2 separate regions of the Homo sapiens genome follow, and region 2 is reported to be linked to region 1. The links are microRNA targets in miRTarBase. Many come from high-throughput screens and were not tested one by one. Region 1 holds a microRNA gene; the other region holds the end of a gene's coding sequence.

What was found. The annotated mature microRNA hsa-miR-1273h-5p reads CUGGGAGGUCAAGGCUGCAGU and lies in region 1 at 3,142-3,162, shown strand. An mRNA with a match to its seed (bases 2 to 7 or 8) in the 3' UTR can be bound and repressed. Matches are read on the target gene's strand: a 7mer-m8 pairs with bases 2 to 8, a 7mer-A1 pairs with bases 2 to 7 and ends in A, and an 8mer does both.
Region 2: miRTarBase lists TIAL1 as a target of hsa-miR-1273h-5p. The part of its 3' UTR that is shown has no 7-base or 8-base seed match.

What each region holds. Positions count from the first base shown.
Region 1 is chr16:24,200,007-24,205,183 of GRCh38, forward strand. It overlaps MIR1273H (microRNA 1273h), which reads left to right and starts at 3,110; the gene lies at 3,110-3,225. The region is part of intron 16 of PRKCB (protein kinase C beta); the gene reads left to right.
Region 2 is chr10:119,571,150-119,576,149 of GRCh38, reverse strand. It overlaps TIAL1 (TIA1 cytotoxic granule associated RNA binding protein like 1), which reads left to right. Exons shown (of 12, transcript NM_003252.4): 12 at 359-2,685. The coding sequence ends at 485. Among named protein-coding and RNA genes, the nearest start is that of TIAL1, 23 kb to the left of the region's middle.

The sequences.
Region 1 (5,177 bases):
TTAAATTTATTTTAAAATATTGCAACAAATAAGTAGCATCTTCACAGCTTTTATAATTCGTTGTCAGGATTTTAAAAGATGCAAATCTTATTTGTTCCTTAGGGCTTTGATTTTGAGGCTGACAAAGACGGCATGCATTGACTAACCTCTGAAAGAAGGGCATGGCAGCATTGAAATGAGGCAGCCGAGACAGGCTCATTAAGGAGTAGAGGTTTCCCTGCTCATTTCTGGTTGTTCTTTTGGGGTATCCACTGTGTGGAGTTTGCAGAGATCTTAATAAAAATATCAACCTACATTTATATACTGACAAACAAATAGCCAAGAGCCATTTAGGACACACAGCTTGGAGTCTGTTTATCTCTCTCCACCTATCTACACACCCATGGAGAACCCATTTAAACTTCAGATCAAACCAGGCTCCCTTTAGATGGTTGGAATTGTCAGGTTCCTGAGCCAGGTGAAGTTCCTAAATCAGTTTCTGTCTTAGTCCATGTTGTGTTGCTATGACTGAATACCACAGACTAGATAATTTATAAAGAAAAGAAATTTATTTCTTACAGTTCTGGAGGCTGGGAAGTCCAAGGGTGAGGGGCTTGCATCTGGTGAGAGACTTCTTGCTGTGTCATCCCATGGCAGAAGGTGAAGGGCAAGAGAGAGTATGCGTGCATGTGTGTGCATATATATGCATATGCATACATGTGTGTGCACATGCAGGGGAAAGATACGGAGCCAAACTCATCCCTTTTATTAGGATCCCACTACCAAGATAATGTTGTTAAGTTCTCATGAGGTGCCACCTCTCAACACTGTTGCATTGGAGATTCAGTTTCTAACACATGAACTTTGGCGGGGCAAGTCAACCATAGAACCTACCAGATACATGACTTTGAGTCATGTACTATTATATTATTATTTATTATTATTATTGTTATTTTGATACTGGTCCATGGCCCAGGGATTGGGGATCCCTGCCCTAAATCGTGAGGAAGATTGAGGCCCATGGGTGCCACTGGTTGGTAGCCGTCAGCTTCTTACCACCTACCGGCACCTCCATAGTCATCTTGACCTCCTTGCCCAGCTTCCATCTCTGTCTTAGCAAATATGTTTTCCCTCCCCCAACTCATGTGAGACTTACCCTCACTCCTGCTCTGGACTCCAGCCTCTTGATCCTTCATGCTTATCTCCCCTGTTTAGTCTGTCTACAGCTTCTCTCTGTATCAACAAAACTCCTATGGTTTCAAATAGGAATCTGATTTAAACTGACTTTTAAGCAAAAAATAATGATAGTTAGTATTCAGATGTAGATGGATCATCTACATCTGGTCCCAAACAATGCCAGCAGGGAAACATTTATCTATATCCCTTAGGATTACTTTCCCCACTGTGTTGACTTCATTCTTCATTCTCAGAAGGCTTTCTTGGGCACATAGCAACTCCCAATTTATGTCCCATTATCTCTGCAACTTCTACCAAAGAAAAGGGCTTCCTTTTTATAAAATCCCAGCAGCCTAGGACTCAATCTTTTTGGAAGATTATTGGGTCATATGCCCATCTCTAAGGGAATTGCTCACTGCACCAGGGGGATGGAATGTGCTGATTGACCGGGCCTGGGTCACCAGCCCCTCTTAGCCAGAGAGCTGGATCTAATCCAGACATTTTGAAAAAAGAGAAGGAATGTCCTATCTAAATCAGACATTTTGAAAGAAGAGAAGGAATATCTCCTTTAAGAAAAAAAAGCCACTGTCATGGCCGGGTGTGGTGGCTCACGCCTATAATCCCAGCACTTTGGGAGGCTGAGGCGGGTGGATCATGAGGTCAGGAGATCGAGACCATCTTGGCTAACACGGTGAAACCCCATCTCCACTAAAAAATACAAAAAATTAGCTGGGCGCGGTGGCGGGCACCTGTAGTCCCAGCTACTCGGGAGGCTGAGGCAGGAGAATGGCGTGAACCCAGGAGGCGGAGCTTGCAGTGAGCTGAGATAGCGCCACTGCAGTCCAGCCTGGGCAAAAGAGCGAGACTCCGTCTCAAAAAAAAAAAAAAAGAAAAAAAGAAAAATAAAGCCACTGTCACTAGAAGAAAAGACAATGCCTGCTGGCTGGGCAAAAACAGCAGCTGTCCTTTCTGACTCTATCCTGGCCTTCTCCTTTGTGCATAAACCTGCTATGTCTTTTTCATGTTAAAAATCCCCTACCTCAAACCTGGGAATCCTCCTTACTACTACTCTTACTACTGCTATGATTACTACCCTACCTTACTTTGCATACAAACACACTTTTGAAAGAGTTGCCAGTTCCTGCTATTTCCACTTGATGACAATTTATTGTTTCCTCAGTTTGGTGCAATCTGGCTTCTGCTCCCGCCATCCTATTGATATTTTTCTCATTGAGTCATCAATGACCTGAAAACTGCCTCTTCTCATAAGCTTGTCTCATCTTTCTTGACCTCACCATATTATTAGGTGCTCTAATCCTTTCTCCTTTAAAAAAATGTGAAAAAATAAAATATTCAAGCAGCATCAGAAGCTACAAAGTGAAATTAAGATTCCCCTCACCCATGGCTCCTAGCTAGGCTTCCTGGTTCTCCTTCCCAGAGACACCCATTGCAACCAGGTTCTTGTGTGACCTTCTAGAGAAGATGTGTTCAGGCCCAGAAATAGTCTACATCACACACAAGGATGTTAGCATGCTGTGTACAATTTCTGTATCTTGCATTATTCCCCTCTGTCTTGGAGATTGTTTCTTATCTGCTTATCTAACTCTACATCACCCTTTGAATAACTTCCTAGTTTCCTATATAAGTGAGTTTATCTGTAGGAAAAGTTCAGAGTGCCTTCTTTCTTTTTAAGCCCCTCTTCTCCTTCATTTTTATGACATTGTGTGTCTGTCTTAGTCTGTTTTGTGCTGCTATAAGAATACCTGAAACTGGGGCCTGGTGCAGTGGCTCATGCCTGTAATTCCAGCACTTTGGGAGGTTAACATGGGCAGATCACTTGAGCTTGAGCCCAGGAGTTTGAGACCAGCTTGGGGAACATGGCAAAATCTGTCTTTACACACACAAAAATTACAAAAATCAACCAGGTGGGGTGGCACATGCCTGTAGTCCCAGCTACTTGGGTGACTAAGGCAGGATTGCTTGAGCCTGGGAGGTCAAGGCTGCAGTGTCGTGGTCACAGCTTGCTGCAGACTCGACCTCCCAGGCTTAAGCAATCCTCCTGCTCGAGTGACAGAGTGAGACCCTGTCTCAAAAAAAAAAAAGTGGATAACTTACAATGAAAAGAAATTTATTTGGCTCATGGTTCTGGAGGGTGGGAAGTACAAGATCAGGGGCTGTATCTGGGGAGGACCTTCTTGCTGCATAGTAACCTGATAGAAGGCATCACATGGCAAGAGAACACATGAGGGAGGGTAACTTACTTTTTAAATAAATTCACTCCCACAATAATAACATCAATCCAGTCACCTCCAAAAGTTCCCACCTCTCAACACTGTTGCATTGGGGATTAAGTGTCCAGCACAAGAACTTTGGGAGAACACATTCAAACCATATCACCACATTTGCTGATGTTCTTCCTACCTTCACAGCCACTCCCAATAGAAATTCCAACTCCACAAAGACTTCCAGTGACAGTTGAATTTGGAGGGTTGAGACCAGCTCATGACCCAGAAAGGAAAACAGAAAGCTTACTTTTTGTTTTGTTACAAGTGCAGTCTCTTAAAAATAACCACAAAATGCCCCCCCAAATGGCATATGGAAAACAGCACAGAGATGGTGTGTTAATCTACCTGAAATGTCTTTCTAAGGAAGTGAGGCTTGGATGGGAACGGAAATGCATCCCTTTTTCTTCCCAGGGTACACGTCTTTTTCTCACTTCCTCTAACTGGGAGCCCCAGGGCCTGGCTTTGTCTTGTAGCTTCCTGCCGTGATGCACCAGGCTAAGTGGGAAGGTTTCTGTTCTATGTCTAAAGTAGCACTGGCAGGTCCTCATTCTGCTTGTAATTGGGATGGGAATATGGGTAGGAATTTAGGGTTTGGCAGAGCGTACAGGACCTCTTTCAAGCCAGAGCACAGCCCTGTCAGACTTACTCACTGGACATGAATGGGTCAGTCAGCCCTCAGCAGTAACCACCAGCTACCATGTTAAGTATTTGATGTGAATTTTATCAAGTCATTCTCGCCACACCCTACAAGAAACTTGAGCTTAGGGGACTTAGCTAACTTGCTTGAAGGTTGTATAGCTGGGAATTGTTGGAGCCAGGATTGGTACCCAGGTTAGCTTAACTTTTAAGTCCGTGCCACACAATCAGATACATAGTATGAGGCAATGGGATGTAATGGAAAGCCCATGGGCTTTGGAATTGAACAGATGGGCTCTGGATCTTGGCTCTCCTACTTGACCCTATATGACCCTGAACAAACTGTTAACTCTTAAAATTATCTGTTAAGTAGAGATAATCCTTTTCCTGCCTATCTCACAGCCTTGTGGGAATCAAAGCTATAAAAAGATAGGCAAATAGAAGGGATAATTACTATTTGAGGGTGAGTTTACTTGAAGCCAACAATGTGGGTTTAGGATGAATGGTGAAGAATAGATAAGAAAAAAAATGATATTCTGTTGACATGGGAAGATGTTTAGAGTGTATTTCATCTAGTTTCTTTTAAAAAGCAAGCAAAAGAACAGAGTCATGATTCCACCTTTGTCTAAAAACTAAAAAACATCCATTCATCTATTCATCCAGCCATCTAGGATACAAACCAAGATGTTAACATAATACAGAGATTTGGGGTGGCGGGATTAAGAAGGATTCTTTTGTGTGTTTTAAAATTTTTTATGGCCAGGCACAGAGGCTCATGCCTGTAATCCTAGCACTTTGGGAGGCCAAGGCGTGCAGATCACGAGGTCAGGAGTTCGAGACCAGCCTAGCCAACATAGTGAAACCCCGTCTCTACTAAAAATACAAAAATTAGCTGGGCATGGTGATGGGTGCCTGTAGTCCCAGCTACTTGGGAGGCTGAGGCAGGAGAATCGCTTGAACCCGGGAGGTGGAGGTTGCAGTGAGCCGAGATCGTGCCACTGCACACCAGCCTGGGCGACAAAGTGAGACTTCATCTCAAAAAAAAAATTATTATTATAATTCCTTTTTTTTTTTTTTTTTTTTTTAGAGACAGGGTCTTAC
Region 2 (5,000 bases), not on the chromosome of region 1:
CCATAGCTTTATTTTCAGATTTCTTCCTTTGAGACTGTTTCCAACATGAACTTGTTTTTAAAATTTCTTATGTAATAGATGATGTGTTGAATCATTCACAATTTTTAAAAAATTAGTTTGCAGATACTCCTCAGACATCAGTGTGTTAAGTTGTGGTTATCTTAAAAATATCAAAGACTAATACTGGAATATGTATTCTACACATATATCATTTATTTCTTTGATCTTTCTATTTGTTGTAGGTGTGTTGATTTCTGGTTTTCTATTCTGTGATTAGGCTCTGCTTGATTTTTGTGTAAATACATATGTGATTTTTTTTTTCTTGTGTTTGCTGAAGATTTTTTCTTTTTCTTCCAAGTCAATCACCTTCTGCTGCTTGGATGGGTGGATTTGGTGCTCAGCCTCCCCAAGGACAAGCTCCTCCCCCTGTAATACCTCCTCCTAACCAAGCCGGATATGGTATGGCAAGTTACCAAACACAGTGAGCCGGGACTCTAAAAAAAAATTGTAATTCATGATAGGCTTCGATTTCCTGTGACACTCTGAAGACATGAAAGTAGACATCGGAAAATGAAAATATTTATTTTAAAAATTGAAATGTTTGGAACCTTTAGCACAGATTTGCTTTGGTGAAGGACACGTGTCTTCTAGTTCTGCCTTTTTAAGTTTTTGTTCATGATGGATATGAACATGATTTTTCTTTATGTACAAAAACTAAAATAAAGTCAATAAAGACAATTCTGACTACAAATTTTGATATAATAGGAAAAATGGCTAATACATTTTGATTCTTAGATACTATTCCATTTTTATCTTGCTGTTCAGTATTTTAACTCACTGTGTTTTTAAAAGAGCAAAAAAGGGAGGATCGTGAAAACCTGGGAATCACATATAAGTTCATCCTGAATCCTGATACTCCCCTCCCCTTCCCTGAGGTGGACCACATTTGAAGTCAGCAGAGAAAAAGTGTGATATTCAGAAGAAATGCGTGATTTTGGAGTCGCTTTGGAGGAAATATTTTCTTTCTCTATGCCTAAAGAAACTGAAGCCAGACTGAAGTTTTGCACCCTAAAAAAGGAACAGCATTGTTTGAGTTACTTGAGCAAATGTTGGTGGTCCACGTTAAGACATATTTTTAAAACTTCCAAAAGTGTCGATTATTAAAATTGTAGTATTTTACATTTCATTTTGGGGGGAAATCCAAGTATGGTGTTTGTATTGAAGTCAGACAGTCATACTTGTGCTTTTACATGAAGTTTAAATGATACATATTGTAAATATTCAATAACTACAGTGTTTAAAAAGCATGCTTCAACATAGAAGTAGCAGCAATGTAATTATTTGAAGTAACACTTAACACACTCCGCTGCATTGAATGCAGTGGATTGATCAGAATGTTAAGACTGACATTTCCAAGGTTGGCTACTATGTAAAATTAAAATTACACAAATTGTGCAGAAAAAGCCTTAATTTTAATTTCATACAATCTTTGATGCATTAGTATGTTCTAAAATGTCATTGGGAATTAGTTTTTTGTTTTTGTTTTTTTTTTTTTTTTTTTTTGCTTTACATTACTTGGTATGTAAATACCTTGATTAAAACCTTGTAAACCAATTTCAAGGTTACTATAAGTTGTATAGTACAAGTGTTTTTTAAAAATCTTGGGGTGTTTTTAAAAATTAAGATATATTTTGCCCAAGAATTTTTTTAACAAGATTGCTAAAAACATCTTATTTAGACACTTCAATGTACCAATTTATAATTGGATATTCAGTTTAAATAGTACACAGAGTTGTGGCTTTTATTTTCAATTAATTTTTTTCCTTGTGGGCAGTGTGCATGGTATAATAAGCCTGAGCAGAGGCTTAAGTTGTATGTGTGCAGAGTTTGTAAAGGAATCAATTGGAAGATGCAGAAGACCGAGGTTTGCTTTCAAGGTATTTTTCAGGCTGTGTGGGTAAAATTTGCCTCAAATTTCTATCAAACAGGAATGTAAAATAGATAAAATCCTATGTATTTGAATTGTCAGAGCTAGGGAGTGCAAATGTTTTGGCAATGTATTCAAAATGCTGGCCTGGGCACCAAAGAGAAAATAGCCTTTTACAGTTACATAGTAAGATGCGATTAGTACCCACAAATTACTGTTTTCTAAACATTTGAAGTTTTACGATTAGCTTTAAAATAATGATTTTATAAATTGGTGGTCACAATAATTTTGGTATTACTTTCCTCCTTTTCCCACTTAGCAATATAGCCAAATGTATTCAACATAAAAATTCATAGGGTCTGAAATTCATAGCTGGGCCAAATTTTTTATGGCACCTTAGTTTTACCATAATGGTCATCTATTACACTCTTCTGTTATAAAATATACCCTTATTTCTTTTGTTTATAGTATCTTTGAGGAATGTTTTTGGAAAAGTTAATTTATATTTTATAGGGAGAACACTCAATAAATTATGTTAACTGTGCCCCCGAGTTAAAAATTTTATGAGTATATGTGAAACTTGAACAACTGAAGACTTTTTTTAATTGATAAAAATGCTTAGTATGCCTGTTTTGGTCTGCCAGTAAATTAAGTAGCTTATTGAGATAACTAACAGCTAAATATAGCTGTAGTGTTTCCTGACTGTATATTCTATGATTTAATAAAATTATCCAGACTAGTTATATTGCCACAGTAAACATGTGACTGAAGTGTCCTTCATCTTAATCTGAAAGAGGGCAAAATTTCATGATCAGTTAATGGAAGTTATTTCATATTAAGTGGTTTTTTTTTTTTTTTTTTTTTAGATGGAGTCTTGCTCTGTCGCCAGGCTGGAGTACATGTAGTGATGAGAACTTGGCTCACCGCAACCTCTGCTTCCCAGATTCAAGCGATTCTCCTGCCTCAGCCTCCTGAGTAGCTGGGATTACAGTCACGTGCCACCATGCCCAGCTAATTTTTTTGTGTTTTTAGTAGAGATGGGGGTTTCACCATGTTGGCCAGGATGGTCTCGATCTCCTCACCTCGTGATCCGCCCGCCTCAGTCTCCCAAAGTGCTGGGACTACAAGCGTGAGCCACGGTGTCTGGCTTTTTTTTTTTTTTTTTTTTGAGACGGAGTCTTGCCCTGTCGCCAGGCTGGAGTGCAGTGGTGCAATCTCGGCTCACCGCAACCTCCGCCTCCTGGGTTCAAGCTATTCTCCTGCCTCAGCCTCCCGAGTAGCTGGACTACAGATGCATGCCACCATGTCTAGTAAATTTTTGTATTTTTAGTAGAGACAGGGTTTCACCATGTTGGCCAGGATGGTCTCAATCTCCTGACCTCGTGATCCACCCACCTCGGCCTCCCAAGGTGCTGGGATTACAGGCGTGAGCCACTGCACCTGGCCATTAAGTGGTTTTTAAAATACAAAGCTACTTATCCAAATGAAATGTACCATTTAAAAACTACAACTGGGCCGGGCGCAGTGGCTCAGCCTGACCAACATGATGAAACCCTGTCTCCACTAAAAATACAAAATTAAGCGTGGTGGCCCGTGCCTGTAGTCTCAACTACTCAGGAGGCTGAGGCAGGAGAATCTCTTGAACCCAGGAGGCGGAGGTTGCCCTGAGCCAAGATTGTGCTATTGCACTCCACCCTGGGAAATAGAGCAAGACTCCGTCTCAAAAAAAAAAAAAGTGCAACTGTTGCCGGGCATGGTGGTTCACACCTGTAATCCCAGCACTTTGGGAAGCTGAGGCGGGTAGTGGATCACCTAAGGTCAGGAGTTTGAGACCAGCCCAGCCAACATGGTGAAACCCCATCTCTACTAAAAATAACAAAAAAATTAGCTGGGCGTGCTGGTGGGCGCTGGTAGTCCCAGTGACTTGGGAGGCTGAGGCAGGAGAATTGAACCTGGGAGGTGGAGGTTGCAGTGAGCTGAAAATGCGCCACTGCACTCCAGCCTGGGCGACAGAGCGAGACTCCATCTCAAAAAATAAATGAATTAATTAAAAGTATGGCTGTTGAGCTAACAGATGATTTTATAACATGACCCAATGCTATCTTGATCCAACTTAAGCCTAAGAATCGTTGCTCCCCACCCCGTTCATCAAAAACATCAGCAGAGACTTTTTGGGCATGCAAGGAAATGTTTTTTATTTCATAATTATTTTGAGATTTATTTTGGTGATGTGTTTCTGACTGACTGCCATATTCTTTGTTCTCATAATTTCTCTACTAGTATTTTCACTCCCAACCCCCGTGCCATTCCCACTTGATTTTTATGTCTGCTGGCAGTGAGAGGCTAAAATGGCCAACTTAAGCCAAAGCTGTAAACAACAGTTGAAGTAAGTCTTTCAATAAAGACTAGACTATATGATAAGTGGCTTTTTCTTATTGTCGTTTATTACATAATTATTCTACCAGGTTGCCATGAAATAAGCAACTGGGTTTTAAGTTTTCAGTAGTTATGTGGAGTATGTATGTAGTCAGGACCTATTTCCATGTTCTGTGTAAGTGTTAACAAGTCCATTAGCTTTGCTGAATTTAATCTCTGGATATGAAGGAGTAGAAATTTGCATCCTTCTAAAAATGCATGCTCTGTTTAATATTAATATATTAAAATTTATTAATTTGGAGTCCTCAGATACGGGAACTAATTTTACTGTCTAGGTTGCTCTTTGGTAGTATCTATGAGTAAAGATGATACTTGACAAAAATAATTTAATAAATGTTTTAGATACTTTACTAGTATGTCCAAATTAAATTTTCCCTATTAAAAGCATTTGAGCTTCTACTTAATACATTATAAACATTGACTTTGCAATTTTATTACGTATTGGAAAGATGCAAAACCTATTTCCTTTAGACTTTTACTAGTTTTTGTAAGCCTTCACTCTTAAGTGGTCCAAATGAGGGTTTTGCTTAAATGTGTATTCTACTATGTTTAGTAATTAAATATTCTCGTAATTGGCCAGGCACAGTGGCTCACACCTGTAATCCCAGCACTTTGGGAGGCTGGGGTGGGCAGATCA